Homo sapiens: one gene and its partners. The protein of the gene in region 1 interacts with the protein of each later gene in a pairwise test. Each region holds a gene or a part of one and is shown in the gene's direction. Other genes may lie near its edges.

What was found.
Region 2: the proteins of ALG13 (region 1) and ESRP1 interact in a two-hybrid assay, tested with the Homo sapiens proteins (one large-scale study listed by BioGRID).
Region 3: the proteins of ALG13 (region 1) and NXF2 interact in a two-hybrid assay, tested with the Homo sapiens proteins (one large-scale study listed by BioGRID).
Region 4: the proteins of ALG13 (region 1) and YTHDF3 interact in a two-hybrid assay, tested with the Homo sapiens proteins (one large-scale study listed by BioGRID).

What each region holds. Positions count from the first base shown.
Region 1 is NC_000023.11:111,725,157-111,730,431, forward strand, and holds part of ALG13 (UDP-N-acetylglucosamine transferase subunit ALG13), read left to right. Parts: intron 1-1,652; coding exon 1,653-1,899; intron 1,900-2,175; coding exon 2,176-2,289; intron 2,290-2,457; coding exon 2,458-2,614; intron 2,615-3,028; coding exon 3,029-3,149; intron 3,150-5,238; coding exon 5,239-5,271; intron 5,272-5,275. UniProt on the Homo sapiens protein: Catalytic subunit of the UDP-N-acetylglucosamine transferase complex that operates in the biosynthetic pathway of dolichol-linked oligosaccharides, the glycan precursors employed in protein asparagine (N)-glycosylation.
Region 2 is NC_000008.11:94,647,223-94,652,020, forward strand, and holds part of ESRP1 (epithelial splicing regulatory protein 1), read left to right. Parts: intron 1-4,798. UniProt on the Homo sapiens protein: mRNA splicing factor that regulates the formation of epithelial cell-specific isoforms. Specifically regulates the expression of FGFR2-IIIb, an epithelial cell-specific isoform of FGFR2.
Region 3 is NC_000023.11:102,245,500-102,250,813, forward strand, and holds the start of NXF2 (nuclear RNA export factor 2), read left to right. Parts: upstream 1-1,667; 5' UTR 1,668-1,739; intron 1,740-2,937; 5' UTR 2,938-3,059; intron 3,060-5,314. UniProt on the Homo sapiens protein: Involved in the export of mRNA from the nucleus to the cytoplasm.
Region 4 is NC_000008.11:63,174,670-63,179,467, forward strand, and holds part of YTHDF3 (YTH domain-containing family protein 3), read left to right. Parts: intron 1-661; coding exon 662-747; intron 748-4,798. UniProt on the Homo sapiens protein: Specifically recognizes and binds N6-methyladenosine (m6A)-containing RNAs, and regulates their stability. M6A is a modification present at internal sites of mRNAs and some non-coding RNAs and plays a role in mRNA stability and processing.

The sequences.
Region 1 (5,275 bases):
TTGTTGTAGGGTAGGGTTTCTCAACTTTAGCATTACTGATAATGGAATGGATACTACTTCACTGTCGGGGGTTTGTCCTGTGCATTGTAGGGTGCTTCATAGCATCCCTGGCTTCTATCCACTAGAAACAAAAATGTTTCCAGACATTGCCAAATATTCCCTAGAGGAGGGAGAGGCACAGTTGTCCCTGGTTGAGAACCATGGTTCTTAAGGGACTTTGTGTAAACTTAAGCACTCATATTTGAGAGCTAAAAAGAAAAAAATGATCTTGTGGAGATGAGTAGAATGATGGTTACCAGAGGCTCAGAAGGGTATTGGGGGTGGGGGATAAAGAGGGATTAGTTAATGGGTACAAAAATAGGTAGTAGGATTAAGATCTAGTATTTGGTAGCATAATAGGGTGACTGTAGTTAACAATTGCATATTTCAAAAAAACTAGAGGACTGGATTTGGAATGTTCCCAACATAAAGAATTTGTAAATGTTTGAGGTGATAGATATCCCAGTTACCTTGATTTGATCATTATACATTGTATGCTTGTATCAAAATAGTGCATGTACCCCATAAATACGTACTGTTCTACACCTATAAAAATTAATTTAAAAAACTTAAGCTGACATGGATCTTAACCTGAGGGGGAAAAATATTTCTTAGAGACCTGAGGGGGAAAAATATTTCTTAGAGAACTAGGAAAATACCTCATAGAAGCAGCCAGGGATATTAACAGGCATAATTTATTAGAGAATAGTAATGTGTGTGATTGGATGACTCGGAGTTTTTGGGGTTTTTGTTTGTTTGTTTGTTTGAGACAGAATCTCGCTCTTTGGCCCAGGCCGGACTGCAGTGGCGCTATCTCGGCTCACTGTAAGCTCCACCTCCCGGGTTCACGCCATTCTCCTGCCTCAGCCTCCCAAGTAGCTGGGACTACAGGCTCCTGCCACCGTGCCTGGCTAATTTTTTTTGTATTTTTAGTAGAGATGGGGTTTCACCGTGTTAGCCAAGATGGTCTCGATCTCCTGACCTCGTGATCTGCCCGCCTCGGCCTCCCAAAGTGCTGGGATTACAGGCGTGTTTTGTTTTTTTTTTTTTTTTTTTTTGAGACAGTCTCACTCTGTCGCCCAGGCTGGAGTGCAGTTGTGCGATCTTGGCTCATTGCAACCTCCACCTTTCGGGCTCAAGCAATTCTCCTGCCTCAGCCTTCTGAGTAGCTGGGATTACAGGCGCACGTTACCACGCCTGGCTAATTCTTGCATTTTCAGTAGAGACGGTTTCACCATGTTAACTAGGCTGTCCTTGAACTCCTGACCTCAAGTGATCCACCCACCTCGGCCTTCCAAAGTGCTGGGATTACAGGCGTGAGCCACCGTGCCTGGCCATGGATGACTCAGTGTTTTGATGACCTATACTAACCTGCCCATGCTGGGGATAGTGCCGAGATATACCCATTGATACAGAAATTACCTGCTGGTTTTGTCCTTCCAAATAAAAGATCTAGTATATCCTTCAAAAATACAAAAATTCCCTCCCTATGTTTATTTGGTTTGTTCCTAGGGGAAGCATTGGAAAGTTTAAGGCAGTGTGGTGGTGACAGTACACTGGGCCTTTTGCTTTGATTATGAAGCTTATTTGCTACCTCTTTGTTTGCCTGAAAGTTATATCAGAGATGGACATAAAGCAACAGAAGAAGATGTTCAAGAAAATTCGAGGGAAAGAAGTTTACATGACTATGGCTTACGGCAAGGGAGACCCCCTCCTCCCACCCAGGCTGCAGCACAGTATGCATTATGGGCACGATCCTCCAATGCACTACTCACAGACAGCTGGCAATGTTATGTCTAATGAACATTTTCATCCTCAGCATCCATCTCCGAGACAAGGTCGGGGATATGGGATGCCCAGGTAAGACATTGACAGATTTGTATTTTCATGGTCTAGGGAAATATGAAGCAATTGAAGAGATCCAAGAAGATAGAATGCCATCAAGATGAGGGTCTCTGTGACATACAGACTGTATTTCATTAATAATAGTTAGCCCTAATGCCAGTATTGCAGAGAGCAGAGCTCTTTCTAGTTGAATGTTTTTAGAAAGACAGATTAGTTCTATTTAACTACAGAGACTGACTACTTAGGTATTAGTGAATAGAGAGTTCTAGTTTCCTTTCTCTTTATTCTTAGGAATTCATCTCGGTTTATAAACAGGCACAACATGCCGGGCCCTAAAGTTGATTTTTACCCAGGCCCAGGTAAAAGGTGCTGCCAGAGCTATGATAACTTCTCTTATAGATCTCGGTAAGTATTGTGTTGAAAGTCAGAGAAAATTGGTAAGTCTGATTTCATTGCTGAACATTAATGTTTTAAAAAGTGTCAACTTTGAGATATTTGAACTGTTATTTAGAAATTAGGAACAAGTTACTATATTTCATCATTTTTACTTTTTTATTATTTGAACCACTTAAGTTCATTTAGACGTAGTCACCGCCAGATGAGTTGTGTGAATAAGGAGTCCCAGTATGGATTTACCCCAGGGAATGGACAGATGCCCAGGGGCTTGGAAGAAACTATTACTTTTTATGAAGTTGAAGAAGGGGATGAGACTGCTTATCCAACTTTACCTGTGAGTGGATCAATGCTTTACTCAAAAAGCTGTTTACTTTTTTCATTTATTTTTTTGAAGTAAAGGCAATGTGGATAAATTTTAGATTTTGTACAAATAACCAAACAAAGCCTTTTCTGGAAAATGAAAATGAGAAAAGAGACATTTTCTCCCAGCTGTTCCTAGAGAAGGGAATAGAGGTAGACTTGATAATCTTGCCTATAGAGTATGGGTTAATATTTTCTATTTTCTTGATTTTTACTTCATATTTTTTGTATTCTAAACTGCATGGAAAACATTTAATTACAGAGTTCTCTTACAATAGCAGTTCACATTGTTAGGCTAGTTTTTAAACTGCCTTTTAAAACATCCCTCTAGCTTTTTTTTCTGACTATATAGTGAGAACTGCAGTGTGTGTGTGTCTCTCTGATACAGAATCATGGAGGTCCCTCTACAATGGTTCCTGCTACTTCAGGATACTGTGTTGGAAGGCGGGGACATAGCTCAGGCAAACAGACTTTGAATTTAGAGGAGGGCAATGGCCAGAGTGAAAATGGTGAGTCAATTACAGTTAAATATTTTTTAAAAGATTCTTGTGGCATTAGCACATCAGGCCAGTGAAGTAGACCAATTTGGTTTTGGCGTCTCTCTCTGTTCCAGTAGCTTAGTTCTGAAAGATTTATATAAGTTCTTAATGCTTGCTGGGTTTTTGAATATGTCCTGGTATTTCTCAGAAGAGTAGACTTCTATTTCATTAGGCTGCTACATTGTTATAACTTGTTTTCAGCTCTCTGCATAGGTCTTTAGTGAGTTTTGACTTGGTGTCAGATATCAGTATGGAAAACATCTATTCGTTGTTAGTAGGGCACTATTGATAGTTGTCCTCACCATTTGTATATGTTAGGCTTTTCGTGTGACTGGCTATTATTTTTTAAGACTACTATGAAGTAACTATTCGATAGTTACTTCATACTATGAAGTCTATTTGATCTATAAACATTACTCTTTATTGAACCCTACGTGATACCCACTCTACTAAGTCATTATATTCATAATATAGTCCTTCGTGTGCTCTTCTGAGGAATGTGCTGTCCCTATTTTACATATGAGGAAATTGAGATTCAGAGGGTAAATGACATGGCTAAGGTCATATCCTTGGTAAATGGCAGAGATATAATTTTTTGTAACTTTTATTGAGATATAATTTACATATCATACAATTCAGCTATTTAAAGAATACAATTCAATGGTTTTTTATTCAGAGTTGCATACCATCAACACAATTAATACTAGGACATTTTTATCACCACAATAGAGAAATCCTGTGCCCATTAGGAGCCATTCCCCATTTGCCCCAACCCCCAGCCCTTGGCAACCATCAGTCTGTTTTCTGTCTTTATGGATTTGCCTCTGCTGGACATTTTTTATAATTGGAATCGTATACACACACATAGCCTTAACAGTTTTTATGTTGACTCCTACCATGGAATGTGTTTATTTTTACCTTGTTACTTTTAAAAGATACTGTATATCCCTATTGAAACAATTGTGGAGCATTGAGTGGCTTAAGGAGGTGTCAGGCATTCCTAATGACTTGACTTATGAATAAGTTCCTTATTTTCTTGTACTCTTTTTTTCTACTAGTGTAGAAAAAAAATAGATATTTTTAGGAATTTAATGAGTAAAAAAATCTAGTGCAAGAATGATCTGTGAAAACTTTGTACGTGTGTGCATGCGTGTGCTTAAGGACATTTACTGTCTGCTCTCTTATTTAGATGACCCTTTTGTCTTTTAGCTCTATGGGTAGTGTGGCATATTTGAAATAACCAAATCTTTGCTCCCACCTTAAATCTGGAGGAGTTTCATGCGTGTGTGTTTGATAAGTGGTGTGTTTAAGAATCAAATTTAGTTTAGAACTGCGGGTTTATATTTGGTGGAAAACTGTCCGATTGAGTATTGACTTTCTCTGCATTTCAGTGGTACAGAAATCTTAAAAGTACTTCAGTCTACTGAGCCATCCTTTGAGGACACACTCATTTTACATGTATTACTTACATGAAACAGATTGAAAAACAGATGAGGCATACATGTTCCCTTAATGTCCACCTAAGGAAACAGTGGATTATACTCATACTTTATAGACACCATTGAGTATTTAGTATGTGTAAAGCACTATGCTAAGTTACTTTCACTTCCATTAACCATCCTCAAAAGGCCTATGAGCTAGGTACTGTTACTCCATTTTACAGTGAAGAATTGAGGCACAGAGATTAAATAACTTGCCTAAAGTCATGTAGTTAATCAGAATTCAAATCTAGGCAGTCCTCACTCCAGAGCCTATGTGCTTAATCACCACACTGTAGCCTCACTGGAAAAATTGGACACAACTGAGTTTTCACTTCTGCCTGACCTCTAAGAGCTAAGTGGATTTTCAGAGGAGAAATTTGTACAGCTTACAGCTAGTCTGTGGCTTCAATATCTGTTGACTAGTGTGAAAGCTCATATCACTTTTCAGGATGTATGCATTTTAGTTTTGAACATATAACCATAAAACTGGTGGAAAAAGCAAGTGCTGGCCATTTGGCTCTGCTGAGCTAAAAAGACCTATATAAACACATTTCTTCTGTCTTGTCTTTTTTCCCCAGGGCGATATCATGAAGAATATCTTTATCGTGCAGGTCA
Region 2 (4,798 bases), on another chromosome or scaffold:
GAGTCAGTTAGCTGGAATTTTGGCTTAGCATGACCAGTAGTGTTGGGAAGAGGGTGGAATAAGCTCATTGTGACAGAATTCTTACAAGAATTTTGTTAAAAAGGTTAGTACACCAGAAAAATTCTCACTGGTTTTTCTGTTGGGTTGAATGTTGTATTAGACAGCTCAAGCTTCCATAACAAATACCATAGACCACGGAGCTTAAACAAAAGAAATTTACTTTCTCACAGTTCTGGAGGCTGGGATGTCCAAGATCAGGGTGTCAGCATGGTCAGGTTCTGGTGATGGCTCTTCCTGGCTTGCAGGTAGCCAGCCACCTTTTCTGGGGGGATAGCAGGAGGAGTTATCTTCTTACAAGGTCACTGCCCTATCTAATTAGACCCCTCCACCCTTTGACCATCATTTAAACTTAACTTCTAAAGACCCTCTCTCCAGATAGTTACATTGGGGGTTGGGCTTCAACATAGGACTTTGGGGGAGGTGGAGGACACAATTCAGTTCTTAAGTATATATTAAACTTTTTAATGTGGATAGTTGGTCTTCCACAAAATAGAGAACCAGAGTACCTACTGAAAAATTAGAAGGCAGTGGAGGAAAAATCTAATAAGCTATCTTAATTTAGAAAAAGACAACTTCTGGCTGGACATGGTGGCTTATGTCTGTAATACCAGCACTTTGGGAGGCTGAGGAGGGAGGATGGGTTGAGACCAGGAGTGCTGACACCAGCCTGGGCATTATTGCGAGAACCCATCTCTACAAAAAGTAAAATGAAATAAAAATATTTTAACAAACGAAAAAGATAACTTCAGTAGGAAAGGAAGTATATTAAGGATTGTTGTGCCAGGGCAATATAGAGAAACCCCATGTCAACAAAAAATAAAAAAATTAGCTGGACGTGGTTGCATGAGACTGTAGTCCTAGCTACTTAGGAGGCTGAGGTGCAAGGATTGCTTGAGCCCAGGAAGTCGAGGCTGCAGTGAGCTATGATTGTGCCACTACACTCCAGCCTGGGTAACAGAGCAAGACCCTGTCTCAAAAAAAGTGGATTTTATTCTTAAATGTTTTAATATTTAATATCGTACTTGTACATGTCTTTCTCATTTAACAAGTTAGAAATGCTAATAAGCTTTCTTAGCAACGGTTTTTATGTTATATTGCTGCTGTGGTGAGTTATTTTATGACTACTATTCAGAGGAATACTTATTTCCCTGTCTAGGCTACCAGACCAATTTCTGAGGCTAAAAGCAATTATGTCCAATCTGAATATCAACTTGTGCTCATCTATGCAAAGTATTTCTACAATGTCTGAATTGAATTGTTCCGTTCTTTCAGAGCATTAAACATTTTCCTTGCCAATATGGAAGTGACGCTGAATTGGGAGATCTGTAGTCATTAAACATTCTTGATGGTTTTGCCAAGTGGACAGAAGGTCATTTGCTCTTGAGGAATTACCTGTTTCACCTGGTAAACCAGTGGGGGAGGGAAAGGGGCTTCTGTAAACACCTGGAGAAGAGCAGATAAGAGAATGTGCAGGTTGAAGTGTTTAATTTTTTTTGTCGTGAAATACTTGTATCCTTGATTGGTTGTTTTAAACGAGGATACAGAAATATCAATTTGGACCCTCAGTGATGTCACAATATTCTAAGTGTTTTGGAAACATGCTTTATTAACTTTACATCCAAGTAAATTTAAAATTTTTAACAAAAATCCATTTTTGGCTGGGCACGGTGGCTCATGCCTGTAATCCCAGCACTTTGGGAGGCCGAGGCAGGTGGATCACTTGAGTTCAAGAGTTCAAGATCAGCCTTGCCAACATGGCGAAACCCCGTCTCTGCTAAAAATAGAAAAATTAGCCGGGCATGATGACGCACATCTGTAATCCCAGCTACTCAGTAGGCTGAGGCAGAAGAATCACTTGAACCCAAGAGGCAGTGAGCCGAGATCATACCATTATACTCCAGCCCAGGTGACAGAGTGAGATTTAAAAAAAAATTATTTTTCAAATTTTGGAGATGGGTCCTCATATTTTGCCCTGGCTTCTCTCAAACTCCTGGCCTCAAGCCATCCTCCTGTCTTGGCCTCCCAAAATGCAGGGATTATAGGTGTTTGCCACCATATCCTGGCCTCATTTATTTTTTAATTAGTAGGCTTTATTTTTTTGAGATGTAGTCGTGCTATGTTACCCAGCCTGGTCTCAGACTCCTGAACTCAAGCAATTCTGCCTCAGCCTCTTGAGAAGTTTGGATTACAGGTGCATCTGCTATACCTGTAATCTCAACTTTTTATTATTATTATTATTTCTTTCTTTGAGACAGAGCCTCCCTCTGTTACCCAGGCTGGAGTGAAATGGCGTGATCTCGGCTCACTGCAACCTTCGCCTCCTGGGTTCAAGCGATTCTCCTGCCTCAGCCGCCCAGGTAGCTGGTATTACAGGCGCCCGCCACTATGCCTGGCTAATTTTTGTATTATTAGTAGAGATGGGGTTTCACCATGTTGGCCAGGCTGGTCTCCAACTCTTGAGCTCAAGTTATCCACCCATCTCGGCCTCCCAAAGTGCTGGGATTACAGGCGTGAGCCACTGCACCCGACCCCAACTTTATTTTTTAGACCAGTTTTAGGTTTAGAGCAAAATTGGGCAGAAAGTATAGTGTTCCTATATAACCCTTGTTACACACATACATACACACTCTCACTCACTCCCCCACTGTCTACATGCTGCACCATTGAGCAGAAAGTATATTGTTCCTATAGAACCCTTGTTATTCTCTCCCTCTTCCTCTCCCTGCTCCTTCCCTTCCTCTCCTTCTCTCCCCGTGCCCCCTCACTGTGAAAGTGCTGTACCAGAGTGGTACATTTGTTACACCTGATGAGCCTACATTGACATGTCAATATTACCCAAAGTTCATAGTTTACATTGGGGTTTACTTTTGGTCTTGTACATTCTATGGATTTTGACAAACGTATAATGACATCTATCTACCATTGTGGTATCAAAATACATTGTAGCAATAGCATAGTATAGAATTTTTTTGTTTGTTTTGTTTTTTTTTACCTGCTACCTTAAAGTCTTTTATCCCTAATAGAATAGTTTTATTGCCTTAAGAATCCTCTGTACTTTGGCCAATCATTCCTCCCTCTCCCTTAACCCCTGACAACCACCAATCTTTACTGTCTCTGTAGTCTTGGCTTTTCCAGGAGGTCATATAGTTGGAATCATGTAGTATGTAATCTTTTCAGATTGTCTTTTTAGCCGGTAATATGCATTTAAGATTACTCCATGTCTTTTTGTGGCTTTATAGTTCCTTTTTAGCACTGAATTCCATTGTTTGGATGTATGGTTTGTTTATCCATACACGGTTTGTTTATCCAAACATGGTTTGTTTATTCGCCTACTGAAGGACATCTTGGTTGCTCTCAAGTTCTTGCAAATATGAATAGTGCTGTTATAAACATCACGTGCAGGTTTTCATATGGACATAGGTTTTTTAAATCATTTTTATTTTTTTTTGAGACGGAGTCTTGCTGTATTGCCCAGGCTGGAGTGCAGGGGCGCGATCTTGGCTAACTGCAAGCACCGCCTCCAGGTTCACACCATTCTCCTGCCTCAGCCTCCCGAGTAGCTGGGACTACAGGCGCCCGCCCATGGCTAATTTTTTGTATTTTTAGTAGAGACGGAGTTTCACCATGTTAGCCAGGATGGTCTCGATCTCCTGACCTCGTGATCCGCCCGCCTTGGCCTCTTAAAGTGCTGAGATTATAGGCGTGAGCCACCACTCCTAGCCTAGGTTTTTTATTTATTTTGGTAAGTACCAAGGAGTGTGACTGCTGGATCATATGGGAAGAGTGTCATTTTTTATATCTCACTGCAATTTTTGTGTTTAAGGCAGACTTTTTTCCAGGGGGAATGGTGAGGGAAAGCAATGAGGCCTTGCATTTAAAAAAACAGTATGTGGAACTTGAATAATATGCAGTATTTCAAGGCATTTATGGAAGATGAAAGAAAATTATAGTGTGGTCTTTTTTTTTTTTTTTTTTTTTTGGGCAAAGTCTCACTTTTGCTCAGGCTGGAGTGCATTGGTGCTGTAATGCTATCGTGGCTCACTGTGGCCTCAAACTCCTGCACCCTAGGCAAGTAGTTGGGACTGCAGGCCTGCACCACTGTGCCAGGCCAATGTTGTGTATTTCTAATGGAAGAGGACACTAAAACCCAAGTTGTAGAGTCACAAAGTCTGAGCTGAGTATACCCTGCTACACAGCAGCTTTGCTTTCCTGGGAGTTACTTGTGTCTACCGAGCCAAACTTTAATCTTGAGTATTCCAAAATGAAAGCTTTGTAAGTGAAGTGCTATGTAAATGAAAAAGTAGGACCATTTTGATGACAAAAGGGTTTAGGAATTTTTTTTTCTTTTTTTTGAGATGGAGTCTTACTCTGTTGCCCAGGCTGGAGTGCAATGATGCAATCTTGGCTCACTGCAACTTCCACCTCCCAGAATCAAGCGATTTTCCTGCCTCAGCCTCCCAGGTAGCTGGGACTATAGGAGCCCTCCACCTCGCCTGGCTGATTTTTGTATTTTTAGTAGTATTTAACCATATTAAACAGGCTGGTCTTGAACTCCTGACCTCAGGTTATCCACCCACCTCAGCCTCCCAAAGTTCTGGTTTTATAGGCGTGAGCCGCCACACTTGACCAGGAATTGAGTGTAGTTCTGGTTCTTATTTTTGGCACTTCTTTCCCTCTTTTGTCTTTGTATTTGTTCTAAAACGCCTTTTTTTTTTTTTTTTTTTTTTTGACAGAGTTT
Region 3 (5,314 bases), 9.5 Mb from region 1:
TGGCCAAGGTTATTTAGCTACAAAGTGGTAATGCCACGGATTCAATCCTAAGATACCTGATGCCCATTACCCCATCTACTGAAAGATGACACTGTACTGCAAAAATTAAAACAGACATAGCTGATCTGCTTCTTTACCTGTAATTAGAGTAAAAGAAAACAACAAAAGAAAACAAAAACAACACAGTGACATGCTAACTGTCATGAAGAAAAGTACCACATGTCTGATAAGGTGATCAGAGATGTACACTAAGTAAGGAAGGTAGCTATAGGGATATCTAAAGCCAGGCTGTTACAGAAAAACACTCAACGGTATGGGAGTATGCTTGCTGAGCTAGTGTTAGAGCAACAAAAAGGAGGCTAGTGTGGCTGGAGAAAAATCCATTTATTCATTCAAAGTATCCACTGAAGCAGGCATTGTTATAGGCACTTAGGGTACATTAATGAGCAATAGACAAAGATATTTGCCCTTCTGGAATTTTTATTTTTCCACCATGGGAGACAGACAATAAAAAACAAAAACAGCATATGATTAAAATATATTGCATTCCAGAAGATGACTGCGGGGGGGAAAAATCAAATAGGGAAGAAGTGGAATCAGGAGTGTGGGCTGAGGGTTGGACATTCAAACAAATATTGGCTGCTTTGCAATTGATAGTATTATTAGATGGGTGGAAGTCTTCTCCTTTGTGCCGCCTTTGCCAGGCATCAGTGTAAATGCTCTGTTGGCTTCACTGCAGAGGACAACACATTTTTCCTATCTTTGGTCAGGACTCAGTTCCTTCTTTAATATATCAGAGAACCAGAGACACTAATATCTGACAGCCTTTTGCCATCAAGTGGCCATGCGTTTTTTAAGTAAGCATCCCCTGCTACACGTCCACTAAATTTGAGCTTTTAACTGTCTGTGTTGAGACGTGGCCTGGTAGAAACCCTCGCTGGGGCCAGGCGCGGTGGCTCACGCCTGTAATCCCAGCACTTTGTGAGGCCGAGTCGGGCGGATTACGAGGTCAAGAGAGGGACACCATCCTGGCTAACATGGTAAAACCCCGTCTCCACTGAAAATAGAAAAACCAGCCGGGCGTGGTGGCAGGTGCCTGTAATGCCAGCTACTCGGGAGGCTGAGGTAGGAGAATTGCTTGAACCCGGGAGGCAGAGGTTGCATGAGATGGGATCCCGCCAGTGCACTCCAGCCTGGGCAACAGAGCGAGACGCCGTCTCAAAAAAAAAAAAAAAAAAAAAAAAAAAAGAAAAGAAAAGAAAAGAAAAAAAAAGAAAGAAAGAAAGCAAAGAAACCCTGGCTGGCCAGTGCCCAGGCCATACACAATGGCATTGTGCCTCACTTTTCACCTAAGACGAAATCAGCGGGTGGGGCAGGCTTATAATCAGAACACCCCTCCCTTTCCACCTCACACACTCCCACCCGCCTGTCCCACAATCCTTCCTGCCCCTCCCGCTCTCCCACCCTTGGTTTCTCGAAACCCCTTCTCCTTCCCTGCCCCCCGTCCCCCGAGCCCCAGGAGGGGGAGGGGCAGGAATCTGGCTCCGCCTCCCAGTATGGAGATGATTGGTCAAAGGAGGTCACCTGACCAAGCTGAGCCAATTGAAGTCCTCTCCCCACTGCTTTGAGAAGGAACCGTTAAGACGCTGGGCCCCACCCACAAGATTGCGTCTTGTTTGTGGCAAGATTCTGAGGGGAAGTGTAGCTCCCAGGTTGGTTCCAAGTCTTCTTCCAATTAGGTAAATTACAACAATATCTTTTCCATAAATTTCCTTTCTTTTCTTTTTTGCCTTTTTTTTTTTTTTTTTTTTTTTTTTGAGACGGAGTTTGGCTCTTGTTGCCCAGGCTGGGGCGTAATGTCGCGATCTCGGCTCACCACAACCCCCACCTCCCGGGTTCAAGCGATTCTCCTGCCTCACTCCCAAGTACCTGGGATTACAGGCATGCGCCATCATGCCAGGCTAATTTTTGTATTTTTAGTAGAGAGGGGGTTTCTCCATATTGGTTAGGCTGGTCTCCAACTCCCGACCTCAGGGGATCCACCGCCTCGGCCTTCCAAAGTGCTGGGATTACAGGCGTGAGCGTCCGTGCCCGGCCCTTCTATAAATTTTATATAAACTAGGCCTTTTTTGGCCTACATTACCTAGGGTCAAGGTTTAGGGATTCATAGGAAAGGCAAATCCGGCTGGATTGCTCAGTGGTCCACTCTCCAGTCCACTCTCTATGTATCCCTTATCTTCACGTGTGATTAGGTTCAATTGTATGGCTAATCACTTCATGTTCTCTCTTTGCAATTTCTCAGGCAGGTTTTCTCTTCTTCTTCAGAAAGTTATATTTCTCTTTTGCATCTTAGTTTTGTTTATGGTTAATTTTGATATGGCGGGCTTTAAATTGTAAATATTGGATTGTATAGATATTTTTCTTTCTATTGTATTTCATTCCTTTTATGCTTAAAAATGCTTTCCTCATCTGAAGAGTAAATACATATTCACCTGTGTGTTGAAGATGACTGGGCTTTCATCTCTTATAATCTTTTTAATGAATCATGTGGTATGAGCATGTATCCCTCTTTGTATGCATCCTTCTAACTATGTTTCAATTGGTTATTGTTAAGCAGTGTGGTTTATAGGTTGCCAGCCCTTTAGCCACTGATTTTGTCTTTTAAAATTCTTTACTCTGAAATAATTTTAGACTTACAGAAAAGTTACAAAAATGATTATACAGAGAGCCCTCGCCTGGATTTCCTTAATGTTAACATCTTATATAACCATAGAAAAATTACCAAAACTAACTACTACATTACATTGATGCACTAATTGACATTACTACATCGATGTTAATTACCAACAGTTAGCATTGATGTAGTACTATTAACTAATCTACAGATTTTATGTGAATTTCACCAGATATCTCACTGATGTCCTTTTTCTATTCTAGGATCTTATCCAGGACGCTTCATTGCATTTGGTCTTCATTTCTCCTTAGTCTCCTCCAGGCTGACATTTCCTCAATCTTTATTGGTCTTCCACAGCCCTGACACTTTTGGAGATACCAGTCAGGTATTTTGTGGAATGTCTCTCAATTTGTGTTTGTCTCATGTTTTCTTATGATTAGATTGAAGTTGTGCATTTGTAGCAAGCACACCTGTTTTATTCTCCTCCCTTTCCCAGTGGCGAGGGAGGGATTCCCACCCTAGTGTTATGGGGGCGGCTGAACACATGGTACCCTATACTGGACAGACGGAATCCACAGCAATTTATCAGTAACATTTACTCACAACTGGAGAGAGGAGGGCACCTCACGCCAGGTAGAGCCACACAGTGTCACACTCTGGAAGAGAGTGAACAAGCAGGGGCTTTCAGGGGGAAGTCTTTGTAGTAACCAGAGGATGAAGTGACCGTTGGTTCAGGGTAGGACGATTGGCTTGTTTGAATAATTCTGCAGGCTGGTGGGGACCTGAAACATGCTACCCAGAGATAAGCAGGCACTGTGTCTGTTCAACATGATAATAAGGAGGGTACTTTGGCCAGGGGGCCTTTCTCCCTGGGAACCCAATAGGGAAGATAACTTGTGGTGAGGCCATTCAGGGTCCTCCTGTTCTACCCCAGATGTCAAGGCATCCATATAATTGGACCTCTAATTTTAGGTCTTATGCGACATTACCGCAAACGTGATTTCGTTCCCTTCTATGTGGATCATGTCAGGGGTACATGACATCCATAAGTTGTATTACTGGTGGTGCTCACCTTGATCACTTGGTTAAAGTGGTGGGAGTTATGCTGCCCCAGTGTAATGCTACTATTTTCCTCTTTGTTAGTAATAAATATAGTGTGAAAAGTTCTTTAAGAAGAAACACAATAGATCCTCTTATATTCCTGTTTCTTCGCAGACTTTGACCCACTACTGTTAAAATCTGTCTAGGGATCTTGCCTACAGCAAATATTACCTAATGGTGATTTTCTGTTTTCCTAATTTCTGCTACATTTATTAATTGGAATTCCTCTGTAAGGAAGAGCTATCTTTACTCCCTCATTCATTTATTTCTTCAATTTATTTATCTCAGTATGGGCTCTTGAATAATTATGTTATACATGCCAGGCTTAATACCTAGGTGATGGGTTGATGGGTGCAGCAAACCACCAGGGCGCAGGTTTACCTATGTAATGAACCTGCACATCCTGCGCATGTATCCTGGAACTTGCAATAAAATAAAATAAAAATTTAATCTAATTATATCATTATTTTGTTCTTTGAACTGTTCTAGCCTTGGCCATTGGGAAGTCATTTTGGTTGGTTCTGTGGTCTTTTGATATGACCCTATCCTTTTTTGGTACCTTTTTCTGGCACAATAAGATGTTCAGATTCAGCATGTGTGTGCCCCCCTCCCCTCACACACACACACCCCTTATAGCCCTGGATTAAAACAACTTCTACGAGGAGCCCCGGTTCCCTTTCTTGGGGAATGATATTTACCAACCAGTATCTCGGTGTGTGTTCATTATTAATGGCGTTTCATTGCTGCTAAGGCTCTCTCTATGGAGAGGGTTAGGAAATAATGTATGTATACACCCATGCCTATAGACACATCCACATTTATTTTGGTATCTATCTGTATGCATAGCTATTAAAAGCCAGGAGCTTGTATTGATACTTTCAATTCCAATCATTCTAGACTTATTTGTAGATTCGTTCTCCGACCTGGCTTTCATTATCAAATAGTTTACATACCTGTTTATTTCTGGTCAGTAGATACATAAAGTAGCGCCTGAATTGCTAACAAATGCCCCTGTTGCAAACATGTTAATAACTTATATTTTTGTACAGTTGTTTTTGTCTTTGGCCTTAGAGGATATAGTCAAAATACTGCTCTCCAAAGTTATGTATCTTAGATCTTTTCTTCCTCTCTCCTTCAGCGTGGTTAAGACACTCATTTGTAATATTGTTAGTTGAACCTGTTTCTGTTTGATTTGGGGTACCCTCACCCCAATATCCCGGTTGATTTTAATTTTTTATTTATATTTTGGGTATGTGCATCATTACTATGATCCAAAGAGTCAGGGTTATACAAAAACCTATACTCGGAGAAATGTCACTCCTTCGTCATCCCTTCTACCCTGTTCCCATTCCCCATTTCTTTCCACTTCTTTCCCTGGCCCTCCCTGTAGGGTAATCAGCCCCTTTGGTTTCTGGTTTAACCTTTCCTGTATTTATTTTGCCCAAATGAGCAGATACATACATGTTTTCTCATATTCCTTTCTTACACGAAGGATAGCATACTATACATGTTCCTTTGCACTTTGCCTTTCCTACTTAA
Region 4 (4,798 bases), on another chromosome or scaffold:
GGATAATTATGGCTATCTTTTGTGTCTTAATTTTGTTTGTAGTTTCATGTGAAAGTCTTCATTCTGGGGGGCTTAGAATTAAAGCCCTCTTTATTTAGATATTTCATAATTATAAGTCTATTCATTGTGATATTGTTTCAAGTTAATTTTAGCCTAAACTTTACTGGAGACATTTAAGACATTTACTATAACAAATTAGATCGAAAATAGTTATTTCATTCTTTATTATACTAAATAATTTAGAGATTTAAACAAAGGTAGAGAACATTCAGAAATCTTTTTTATTGCCTACAACGCTACTTGAAATAGTTATTTTACATTCAAATATAGCATTAGGGAACTCTTTCCAACATTCTTATGTAACAATTTACTCACTACAGTGTTGAGATTGGGATATTTACTTAAAGTTTTTGGTAAGGGGAAGTGTATATATGGCTTGTGTTTATGTAATCTTGGGCTTATGTATCAAAAGACTTTTAAGTTTTTGTGGCACATGAATATTTGTATCTAAAATAGTTTATCCTTAAGAGGGTTCTTAAAAATAACTCAGTATTATTTTTTCTGATTACTTTTTTTGGCTTGAAAAATATTAAAAACATTAGGTTGTGCTGCGAGTTTCATAAAGATAACTACAACACTTCTAATACAAACATTTTTTTAGTTTCAGTACAAAACGGTTCGATTCATCAAAAAGATGCTGTAAATGATGATGATTTTGAGCCATACTTAAGTAGCCAGACAAATCAGGTAAGTCTTCTGACAGTTTCAGATTTTAGGAAATTAACCTTTTATTAGTATTAGTTGATTTTTCAAATAGATTATTTAATGAGATTAACCATAACATGGATTCATTCATCTAGTGTACCTATATAGTAAGTGAGTAGTGAGTAGCAGTTGCAGATTTATGGCACAGGAGAGTTCTTCTTCAGAAAGTATAGGCACCAGAAACTAGGTTATGAAATATAGAATAAAGATTTGAAGGTGACCATTATTTGTATATATTATGGTTAGGTTTTTTGTGTGTGTGTATTGAAGGAACTTAATCTTTTAATGTCACTGCTATATCTTCATAGCTTAAGCTAATTATAAAAGGCTTAATTAGCTAGAAATTTGGGTATTTGGAGGAGGGATTAGTTACCTGAAATTGCCTGCAATTTTGGGTCAAATGTAGTGTTTTCTTTTTTTAAGACATTGCAGATTGAATTCATTGATAACTATTGAAAATTTTAACATACCTTGGTAATGTCGGTGATAGAATTAAGGAGTTTATAAACATACTTGCTTTATAAACACAGTTACTTCTGTATTGTAGACATGGACAGTTTTATCAAATCAAGTAATTGGTAACTGGTGGCTTTGAGTATTTGTGTACAAGCGTAATTCCAATTTAAACATTGAAGAACAATGCTATTAGGTATCTGTATGCCATTTCTGCATCCATTTCTGTCTGTTACTAAAAATAAGCCACTGATAGAAATAAATGAAAAAATACATTTTCAGTATTCACCAGTTTTTTTAGAGAGAACATTGTGGAATGAAACTGTTTGTTTTGCTTTAAAAAAGCAAAAAATGCTCAAGAACTTTGGGTCTTAAAATTAGTTCTGTAGTTCTTATTTATTTATTTATTTTTGAGACGGAGTCTCGCTCTGTCGCCCAGGCTGGAGTGCAGTGGTGCGATCTCAGCTCACTGCAAGCTCTGCCTCCCGGGTTCACGCCATTCTCCTGCCTCAGCCCGGAGTAGCTGGGACTACAGGCGCCCGCCACCATGCCCGGGTAATTTTTTTGTATTTTTAGTAGAGACAGGGTTTCACCATGTTAGCCAGGATGGTCTCGATCTCCTGACCTCATGATCCGCCCGCCTCGGCCTCCCAAAGTGCTGGGATTACAGGTGTGAGCCACTGGGCCCAGCCCACCTCTGTAGTTCTTTGGAATAATTTTATGATTAATTTGATTAGAAACTCAGTTCTTTGGAATAATTTTATGATTAATTTGATTAGAAACTCAGTTTTTTTTTTTTCTTTAATTTTTGAGACAGTCTTGTTTTGTTGCCCAGGCTGGAGTGCAGTGGCGCAATCTTGGCTCACTCCAACCTCTGCCTCCCAGGCTCAAGTGATTCTTCTGCCTCAACCTCCTGAATAGCTGGGATTACAGGCACATGCCACCACGCCTGGCTACTTTTTGTATTTTTTAGTAGAGGTAGAGTTTCACCATGTTGGCCAGGCTGGTCTTGAACTCCTGACCTCAAGTAATCTGCCTGCCTCAGCCTCCCAAAGTGCTGGGATTACAAGCATGAGCCACCGTGCCCAGCCTAAAATTCAGATTTTAATTGGCACGTTAAAGATGCCAGTTAGTTTGTGTGTGTAAATTTGAAGAGTAAATTGGAAAACTGAATGAAGTTTGACTTGTCTGCTTGCATATATGGAGAAAATGAAAAACGTACTCTAAAATTTTAACCTAGATTTTTGAAACTCTGAAAGAACAAGGAACCAAATCTTACTACAGAACTGAACAGTTTGTACAGTAGAGTTATAGGGAAAATTTGAACAAAAAGTAGTTCCCAATTTGTGGGATGCAGGATTATTTTTAGGATTATGGAGAGTGGTGGTTGTGTTCAACCTCATCTACCTCTTGGTTACTTCCCCTTAACCACCCCTTCCTATCTACTGAGCAACATTCCTAGCATACATGGGAGGAGAAGAAATAAATGGGAAAGAAAAAAACTTTACGATCTCAGCAAAATTACTTTTCCACGTAAAGATTATGAAAGTAGATCATTTGTTGTGAAATGTAGTGCAAGTTTTAAAATAAGCGTGATTTTACTATATTCTGGCTCACATAGTAATCTCAGTTAACGCTTATGGCAGTATGGCAGTATTTTCCAACTTTGCTGAGAAATCTTAATATTAGGAGGTGTAATAAATATTCCTTCAAAAAGATGTCCATGTTTAGATAGATTTGAGAAATTTTGGAGGCTAAACAGTTGAACTGTTTTTTTTGCTACTTGATTTCATAGTTTATAAATTATAATTGAAAATGAAGTTCTTAAGATGAAGATATAGTATAAAAAATCCTGACTTGTTCAAACTCTTATTTTTTTTTTTTTTTTGAAACGGAGTCTCGCTCTGTTGCCTAGGCTGGAGTGCAGTGGCATAATCTTGGCTCACTGCAACCTCTGTCGCCCAGGTTCAAGAAATTTTCCTGCCTCAGCCTCCCAAGTAGCTGGGATTACAGACACATGCTACCACGCCTGGCTAATTTTTATATTTTTAGGAGAGGTGAGGTTTCACCATATTGGCAAGGCTGGTCTTGAACTCCTGACGTCAAGTGATCCACCTGCCTCGGCCTCCCAAAGTGCTGGGATTACAGGCATGGAACACCGCACTCAGCCATTCAAACTCTTTTTTAAGGAATTTTAGTGGACTGTAAAAGACAGTTTTGGAATTGCTACCTGAGTAATCTTCTTGCATGTTTTGCTTGATAACAGATATTTTACAATTCTTTATTATTTGTCACAAGGACATAGAAGGGTTTCTACTGGAGGAAAAATTTTTGTCAGGAGGATTTCTGGTATTCCATAGAGGCACCTTAGTGTCTTCCTAGGGAAAACCAGCGGAGGGTGCCTGAATCCCACCAGTGTAGCAACTAGCACTGTGGTTTGCGTTTTATCTGTTCTATATATTGGAATTGTGCATAAGACTTTACTTGTAAAAAAAAAAATAGTTTTAAAAAGTGTTTGGGAAACCATTACTTTTTAAAAGATGTAAAGGCATTTACCTTAGTGAACCCAAATGAATTTTTTCAGCTGCATCATTGCAGGTTATGTTGGAGCAAAACATTTGTAAAATAGATTTGTTTTAACTCATGATATTTGGAATCAACATATTTGTATCCTGTTTGAAGAGAAGTTGTAAAGTTTGATTCCAGTAAGGCCTGTTCTACCTCTCCTTTGTGGTACTAAATAGATTTTCAGCAGTCATCTTTCTTTAATATTAAAAATAATTATCTCTAACAAGATACATATTTACATTTTAAAGAGGATTAATACTGTAGAATGTTGAAAACTGGGTTTATTGAAAATTATCTGGAATCTTAAAGGTAAGTCGTATGAGAATTTAAGTACTCTCAATTATCTAGCTAGAAAATTAAATAAAATGTTTGGACCTTTTAAATAGTGCTATTATAACAGATTAGTGAAAACTGGATTTATTGATGAAAGATCTCAAGAAGATACTGGCAAATTTAGAGTTACACAACTATTTAATTAGGTCCTCATACACTGTACACAGTGTGTTTTAAAAATTAAATTCATTTATCTGATTTTAAAATTATAAATAAAAAATATTTTGATGGAAAAGTGTTTAACAAGTCTTTTGCTAATGATTTAAATTGCTTTGTATACTTAGATCTAGTTCATATCAAACCCAAGGGTACTTTAAAACAAGTTGTTGGCCTTTCTACTTATGTGGCAGCATATTTCTTCTATTTTGTAGTGTTCAGTTTCTGAAGGAATAATGTTCATAGTAATTTTGAAAGTAAATGTCAGTCCTTCATTTCTTTTTTTTTTTTTTATTGATCATTCTTGGGTGTTTCTCGCAGAGGGGGATTTGGCAGGGTCACAGGACAATAGTGCAGGGAAGGTCAGCAGATAAACAAGTGAACAAAGGTCTCTGGTTTTCCTAGGCAGAGGACCCTGCGGCCTTCCGCAGTGTTTGTGTCCCTGGGTGCTTGAGATTAGGGAGTGGTGATGACTCTTAAGGAGCATGCTGCCTTCAAGCATCTGTTTAACAAAGCACATCTT